2 separate regions of the Homo sapiens genome follow, and region 2 is linked to region 1. Evidence: fine-mapped QTL for protein levels in blood plasma. A gene starts in region 1. The other region holds a variant in brackets. All regions are shown on one strand. Distances are between the middles of the regions. Region 1 holds the start of LCT (lactase). Region 2 overlaps MCM6 (minichromosome maintenance complex component 6).

What was found. A credible set is the group of variants that fine-mapping cannot tell apart. PIP is the chance, under the fine-mapping model, that this variant and not a neighbour inherited with it causes the effect. Sun 2018 read protein levels with aptamers (SomaScan).
Region 2: its variant is the best candidate, but not a certain one, in a credible set for the plasma level of the LCT protein (Sun 2018, PIP 0.51).

The regions. Positions count from the first base shown.
Region 1 is chr2:135,834,644-135,839,050 of GRCh38, forward strand. It overlaps LCT (lactase), which reads right to left and starts at 2,541. Exons shown (of 17, transcript NM_002299.4): 1 at 1,887-2,541. The coding sequence starts at 2,526.
Region 2 is chr2:135,849,087-135,853,493 of GRCh38, forward strand. MCM6 (minichromosome maintenance complex component 6) reads right to left here. Exons shown (of 17, transcript NM_005915.6): 12 at 3,701-3,829; 13 at 2,316-2,477. Among named protein-coding and RNA genes, the nearest start is that of LCT, 14 kb to the left of the region's middle. The variant G/A (reference allele first, on the strand shown) is at 1,990.

The sequences.
Region 1 (4,407 bases):
CAGATGTGGTGGTGCGTGCCTGTAATCCCAGCTACTGGGAAGGCTGAGGCAGGAGAATTGCTTGAACTCGGGAGGCAGAGGTTGCAGTGAGCCGAGATCACACCACTGCACTCCAGCCTGGACAAAAGAGTGAGACTCCATCTCAAAAAAAAAAAAAAAAAAAAAAAGAAGAAGAAAAAAATGTTTAACGTCTCTATAATCAAATACATGCAAATTAACAAGACATGAAAATAAGCTGTTTTCAGCTGTCAAATTAGTAATAAAATATAGCATTTGAAACTGACAGAATGGGGTCAGAGAGTAATTTTATAACTGTTCGTATAAATGATTACAACTTTTCTGGAAAATAATTTAGTACCATGCTTTAAAATCTTAAAGAATGCAGATCTTTTCACCTAGTAGTTTCAATTCTAAGATTCTGTCAGAAAGAATTTATCAGAAGGTGGGAAATAGTTTATAGATAGGAATGTCATTGCAACATAACTTGTAACTAGTGAAAATTAGAATAAACATACAAAAATAAGGAAAATACCTTAAACTTTATGCTCCATTTATACAATGGGAACCTAAAAGACCATTGAAAGTTATGCTTTCAAGTTTTTCTTTTGTTTTAAGCAATACTATTCCAGCACTGGAGTAAATTATTATATTATTTTAGAGATAGTGGCTCTCTATGTTGCCCAGGCTGGTCTCCAACTCCTGGCCTCAAGCAATCCCCCTGCCTTGGCCTCCTAACGTGCTGGGATTATAGGCATGAGCCACCATGCCTGGCTCAAGTTTTTAATAAAATGAGAATATAGTCATAAACTATGTTAAAATGAAAAAGTAGAACATAGAAGTATATATATATATATATATATATATATATATATATATATATATATATATCAGGTACTATATATACAAATATGTATGTATATGGTATATAATAAAAACAAGAAAGCATATATAATCCAAAATTGATTCTCAAAATTGGTGTACCTAACATACACTTAGGGAATTGATTATAATCACAAATGTCCTGGTTCAGCCTAGGCCTACAGATCAGAACTTCAAGTCCCCTAGGAGGCAGGAATGTGAACAGTTACAGTTGTGCTCTCCTCATCCTGTGATATATAATTGTTTCATCTTGTATTTGTCTGTCTCCCAAGCTGCAATGTAAGCTCCAACTAAGACATGTAAGTATAGGGGAGCCGAGGGGGAAGGACAGGAAACCACGAAACTTTGCCTCCAAGTCAGGGTAGCAGGACATAGACGGAAAGGAAGACAGAAAGACAATCAGTGCTTGCACAACTCAAGACTGGGCAAGGGGTATTTCAAAAATACATGTGTGTATATATATATATATATATATATATATATATATATATATGTATACATATTTTTTTTTTTTGAGATTGTGTCTTGCTCTGTCGCACAGGCTGTAGTACAGTGGCATGATTTCGGCTCACTGCAACATCTGCCTCCTGGGTTCAAGCAATTCTCCTGCCTAAGCCTCCCGAGTAGCTGGGATCACAGGCGCCTGCTACCATCCCTGGCTAATTTTGGTATTTTTAGTAGAGACGGGGTTTTGCCATATTGGCCAGGCTGGTCTCGAACTCCTGACTTCAAGTGATCCGCCCACCTCGGCCTCCCAAAGTGCTAGGATTACAGGCGTGAGCCTCAAAGATATTTTTCAAAGGAAATGCTGAGTGTTTTGCCATGTTAGCTACCCCTTCCTATCGCCAGTGGGAAATCAATTTACAATATTAATTTCTCCCTATGCACAGACATAAGAGGACTGCTGAAGGTGAGTTGGGAGAAATGTCGAATCTGCTCTAAGGAGGATGGGGAAGGTGTGTGATGAAGGTTGCCGAGGGGTCACCATCAGGTCAATGTGTACTCACCCTGAAAAGCATAGCTTTCGTGGTAAATCTCATAGGCTTTTCTGTGGGCATCACTGAGGGTCTGGAGTTGTGACGCTCTTGATTCCTGGTGGGGAAGCTCCTTGATCACTTCCTCCAAGTCACTGAAGGTGAACCAGATCCCAACTAGGTCCCCGAAGGAGTGGAAGGCGAATGTGGCATAGTCGGCGAAGAGGTCAGCAAAGGCTTCGGTTCTCCGGAGGGTGCTGGCAGGGAGGGTCTGGTGGTGCAGGATGACCATGGGCTGAAGCCGTGCAGTCTTGAGGGCCTTGAGGAGTCGCCGGTAGCACTGCACTGTTTTCTCGTCTGGATTCTGGGTGCTTCCTGCTGGGAGGAGCTGTGCCCATGACAGAAATACCTTATAATGGGTGATCTGACTGGCATGGAGACTGCTGAAGTATTCTGGCAGGAAAGTGGGCAGTGGCTGGTGACAAACATACATGTCTTTGTCCCCTGCTACAAAGTTAGAACTCTGGTCTCCCAGGAGACCACTCAGGTTGTGCAGCAAGTCATTGGTTAGAGGACCAGCGGTGGAAATGAAATTTCTATCAGACTCCCAGTCTGACCCCCAGCATGAAAAACTTAGCAGGGCAATAAAGACTACATGCCAAGACAGCTCCATTTTCTAGGAACTGTTAGGAGGTATGTGGAACCCTTACTTTATAACTGCAACTGAGGTTGTAAAATACTAAGTGATAATTAAGACTTAATATTTAACTGGGTTATCTATGATCACAAAATCAGTACACGGTTCACTAATGCAATATTTAAAAATGTAAAGATCAGGGCCGGGCGTGGTGGCTCACACCTGTAATTCCAGCACTTTGGGAGGCCGAGGTGGGCGGATCACGAGGTCAGGAGATCGAGACCGTCCTAGCTAACATGGTGAAACCCCATCTCTACTAAAAATACAAAAAATTAGCCAGGCATCGTGGCATGCGCCTGTAGTCCCGGCTACTCAGGAGGCTGAGGCAGGAGAATCACTTGAACCCAGGAGGCGGAGGTTGCAGGAGCCAAGATCATGCCACTGCACTCCAGCCTGGGCAACAGAATGAGACTCCATCTTAAAAAAAAAAAAAAAAAAAAAAGGTAAAGACCAACACAAAAACCTCAGACTTCCTATACAAGTTAAGCAGAGGAACCCGGAAAATGTCTGAAGAAAACGATTACCAATTTTTTTTGTTTTTTTTGTTTTTTGGTGACCGGGTCTCACTCTGTTGCCCAGGTGGGAGTGCAGTGGTGCGATCACAGCTTCCTGCAGCCTTGACTTCCTGGGCTCAAGTGATCCTCCCATCTCAGCATCCTGGGTAGGTGGGACCATAGGTGTGCGCCACCACGACTGGCTAATTTTTTGTATTTTTAGTAGAGATGGAGTTTTGCCATGTCACCCAGGCTGGTCTTGAACTCCTGGGCTCAAGCAATCCTCTTGCCTCAGCCTCCTAAAGTGTTGGGATTACAGGTGTGAGCCAGCGCACCCAGCCACACATTATTTTAAAATTTGTTTACATAATACAAAAATAAGTATTTTGCCCCAAATTTTCTCTTTAAAAATATGCTGAACATATTTTGTAAGAGATTCAAACAATATGGAAACATCTATGAAAAACTTGCAAATTCCTTCACCCTCCCCCCTCCTCTTCCTATAATAAGTATCTTCAGCAATATGTATCTTTCCAGTTTTCTTTCTCTGCATATCTTAATGGTTATACAGGAGTCAGAATGCCTGGGTTTAAATCTCACCTGACAAAAATTACTTAACTTTGTGCCTCTATTTTGTCACCTGTAGAATGTGGATAATTCATCATAGGCTGTGGGGATTAAATGGGTCTTTCTTGTAGCATGTATACAACAGTACAGCTCAGGGATCATTATTATTACGTAAATACAAATGGAAACGTGTATAACATTTAAAATATAGAACAATTTAACATATATGGAATTATGCCATATGTATTTTCAGCCTTTTCTTCACTTAATAGCTCTTAGAGTTCTGCCTGTATCAGAACATATAGACCCACCTCTAACAGATGCATAGCTTTCCACAGCAAGAATGTACCATAAATTAACATCTTGCATATTAAACACCGGTTGGTTTTACATTTTTGTGTTGCAAACAATGCTGCAAATGAATATCCTTATATACAGGCTGGGCATGGTCAATCACGCCTGTTTTGCCAGTACTTTTGGAGGCTCAGACTGTAGGACTGCTCAAGCCCAGGAGCTTGAGGCCAGTCTGGGCAACACAGGGAGATCATCTCAAAAAAAAAAATGGTTTTTGATTGATTGAAATGCAAATTGTCTTCCAAGTTAAATCCTACATAGAGTTAGATGTGTGCCTGTATCCGTCTGCCTTGCTAATGCCTATTATAAAACTTTTACATTTTTGATACTTTGACGTAAATATTATGTGCTTTTCTTTTTCTGATTATTTAAGAGGTGAAGCTCTTCTTGTTAATTGGGCATTTTTCTTCTGAGTTTTATCTTATTACTGATATAAAAATTC
Region 2 (4,407 bases), 14 kb after region 1:
ACTCAGAACTGTTCACAAATGTTTGCTCTTCTAATTCTGGGCACCTGGTAGGAAGGCATTTCTCTATCCATTTGAACTTAGGAGGGGCCATGTTAATTTCTCTGGCGAATGAAATGTGAGTATGTGTCATTTCTGGATAGAAGGGGGAGAAAGCACATGGCTCACCACCTTCTCTTCCCTGCTTTCTGTCATCATGAAAGCGTATGTCAAGATCAAACCTTTATATCAGCCTGAATCTCTGAGTAACTTGACAAGGTGAGTCCCTTGATGACCTAATGGATGTGTAGCACAAGCAAAAAAAAATTGTTTTATGCAGCTGAGATTTTATAGTAGTACAACCTAACCTATTCTAAGTGATACGTTACTGAATAGGAAAAATCATAGATGTTTTCAATTCTTCAAGTTAATATAAATAGAATGTTATACTGATAAAAAAATACCAGGTTTTTCTTTAAAACAGAGCAAGCTGATTTCTAAGTTCCTAACAGCTGATAGAGAACAATGCGCTGGAACTAGCCCTACATTTAAACTACAAAGCCCCATAGATTAAAACATCATGGTACCAATGTAAGAGGAGCTGATAAGACTCAATGAACAGAATGGAAAGTCCAAAAGGAGATCCTAACACACACAAGAATATATAATTAAGGCATGCCAAACCAGTGTCAAAAAGATGGATTGTTCAATAAATGGTTTTGGAACAACTAGAAAACTAGCTAGGTAAATAATGGGAGAATTTTTTATAATCTTAGAGTGAGAAAGGCCTAACAAAAGTTTTTTTAATGGATGAAGATTATGAACATATGAGACAGAAATAGCTCTTAAATATATGCAGATACTAAATTTCATTCAGAAAATATATTTGTGTATATAATTTATGTGCATATATTTTAATATCATGTGAATCTGCTATTTGAAGACTAATTTTTAAAAATAGAACAAAATAAAAATCAATTAGAGACTGCCCTAAGACATGTACCAGTTTTATGCAACTCATTTCAGGAACTATCACAATGAAAAAAAAAGTACAAATGTTAGCATGGTTTTAGAATGACCTTGTCCCAGGGTATCTTGCCTATCCAAATTCTGCACACCCTTCAGTGACTGGGTTTAAACGTCGGCACCTCCCTGAGTCCTCCTCCTTCTTTGGTAATAAAGTAATTCATCTCAGCACTCTGGTTGTGATGCTCTATTCTCCCTCTCGTTTTTTTTTAATTTCCAACTTATATTTTAGGTTCGGGGGTACACATGCAGGTTTGTTACATAGGTAAACTGTGTGTCATGGGGATTTAGTATATAGATTATTTCATCACCCACTCTATTTTTTACATGCTTAATTAAATACATGTCTCGTTCCCACCAGATTAGCAGCAATGGAAGGCAGGGGCTCTCATTCATTTTTTGTCCCCTACAGGTGTTCCCTAAATATTGGGTGAATCAAAGAATATTAAATAACCTAGTGTGAAAGTACTTCGTCAATAGTAAAGTACCATATCAAAGAATTTGAAAATTTAGTGGAAAAAAGCCAAAAAATTAACCTGTGGGATAAAAGTAGTGATTGAAGTCGGAACAGTGGTTACTTCAGGGGAAGAGGGCTAAGACTGAAAAGAGGCAGGGGTTTGGAACTTTCTGAAATTATGGAAATGTTTTGGATCTTGAGCTGGGTATTCACAAGGATGTATGTGAAAAAACTCACCATGCCATACATTTCCCTTTTTATAAATTATACCTCAGTCACACTGTAAAAAAAAGCCAAACCCCCTTTTCAAAGACGACCTTACATCAAACCTATTAATAAAACTAGGAAAACGCAGGGCTGCTTTGGTTGAAGCGAAGATGGGACGCTTGAATGCCCTTTCGTACTACTCCCCTTTTACCTCGTTAATACCCACTGACCTATCCTCGTGGAATGCAGGGCTCAAAGAACAATCTAAAAATCAAACATTATACAAATGCAACCTAAGGAGGAGAGTTCCTTTGAGGCCAGGG[G/A]CTACATTATCTTATCTGTATTGCCAGCGCAGAGGCCTACTAGTACATTGTAGGGTCTAAGTACATTTTTCCTGAATGAAAGGTATTAAATGGTAACTTACGTCTTTATGCACTCTATAAACTATGACGTGATCGTCTCCGTCTAACAACTACACTCAAATGCTTACCAAGCTCTTTAAAGGGAAGAATTCCATGGTCGTATGAGCATTCAACAGTTACATAAAAATGTATTTGCAGTGAATTCTAGTATGTCCCATACCAAAGATTAAAAACATGCAACAAATCTGTTTATCTCTGCTCTCATCATATCAAAGTGACTCTGATACCTCATCACAGCAGTGCATCCGAGCCATAGCTTCAGAGAGACGAATCATGCTCTCAAGCTGTCGCACTGTAATCCTCCATGAAGACTTGGTCACTCCAGAACCATCTCTCTGGCGGAGATGTTTATATTGCTCCACAATGAAGTCCTCTGACTCTTTGGAAATCTGTTTCAGATCATCACTCAAGTTAGAGAAACATTTCTATTTGATGAGAGCTACGGTAAACCTAAGTTTAAGAGCCTTCCAGGTGGAAACATTTAGGGAACCTGAGAGGGTTGAAACTTTGAGAAGCCAGTGACAATAAATTACTATTGTAATGTCTTTCAAAAGAAACTAATATTAAGGAGGCTTGTGAATTCCATGTTACTAATTTTATGAACCTGAAAAAAGGCTTAGTATTTAAGCAAATGACCATTTCTAAAAGCTGCTTAACAAGCTGAAGCAATGGAACAAGATGTAATGTCTTTTACACCTCAGGATGTCAGTGCTCATTAAATAAATTAATGCTCAGTATTTGAGGCTCAATTAATTAACTCACACTCTTTGCAGGGAAAAAAAAGCTGTTTCAATAAACTTTATATCTAAAGGATCCTCAGCTTTTCAGAGCAAGGAATTCACCATATTAAGGAAGCATGCCAAGGTTACAGAGGGATCAGTATATCAGTATGCAGTAATGGAGAACAGATGCTCTTTTTTACACAAGAATCACCCATAATCCTTAGTTTTAAATGATTAAATTTCTTTGGGACAGTGAGAGCCAACTGCAATCTCATGAATAATCAAGTGAAGATGATAAATGATCAATACCTAGTAACACCTTCCAGAAGTCAAGTTAGCCAACAGTGTGAAAATCTCAACCAGAATGAGTATTTTTTTTCCTTTTCATACCCTATTTTGGGAAAATGCCAAGCATTTGGGGGTTTATGTCCAGGTAAGAATCCTGGGTCCAGAACAGAGTTAGTCCAATACAATGCATCAATCACTGTAAAACAGTAATTTATATTTATCATAATGGCCTAGATGAATCCAATGTTTCCTTCAAAGAAAGATTCAACTATTGATTTAGGCGCATAAACAATTTTAACGTTCTTAGTAATGTTTGAAATAAAAGAATGTTCTAGATTATCCAGTTATCCAAAACTCTTCTCCCATACAAATCTTTTTATTACCACCAAACAAATAATGGAATTATTCAGAATTTTTTTTACAGTTCCCTTTCTCAGCCCTCTCTGAAAAAACAAATTGCTGTTCCAGAAAAAAAAAAAAAGTTGTAAAATTTAGGAACTAAGGTAGATGACAGGTTCAGTTAATTTCCATATAACACACTTACTTAAATTCCACTTTAATATACCCATTATACCTTATCCCAGTACAAAAGGGTAGGTTACCTTGGGTTTAAACTGTCTTGCAAAGAGAAGATATCTTCTGATATCATCGAGGGAATAGACACGATCAATTGATTCCTCAATTCTTGAATGCAAATCTACTATGCGCCTGGCAATGGCATAATCTGTAACCTAATTCAAAACAAAAAAATCACTTTGATAGTCACAGCAATATCTTCTCCAGACTATCCCAGGCAATAAGAAATGATTTATCGCCAAAAACAAGCTCTAATATACCACTTAAAGAAGTATTAATGGGTACCAAGTTTCTGATGAAAGTTTGGGAACAGGTGGATTTAAAATCAAACGTTTAAATGTATACCATTGCCCCACTCTAAAACTATACCTGAAGGAATTGATTGGCTTTAAAAACAATAGTAGGGTAAAGTGCAGTGGCTCACACTTGTAATCCCAACACTTTGGGAGACTGATGTGAGAGAAGAGCTTGAGGTCAAGAGTTTGAGACCAGTCAGGGCGACAAACTGAGACCCTCCCTGTCTCTACAAAAAAACTAGCTGGGCATGGTGGTGCACATGTGTAATCCCAGCTACTCAGGTGGCTGAGGCAGGAGGATCACTTGAGCCCAGGAGGTTGAAGGGGCAGTGAAGCCATGATTGCACCACTGCACTCCAGCCTGGGCAACAGAGTAAGCCTTATCTCAAAAACAAAACAACAAAAATAGCAGAACTAACATTTATAGGGCCCTCAGT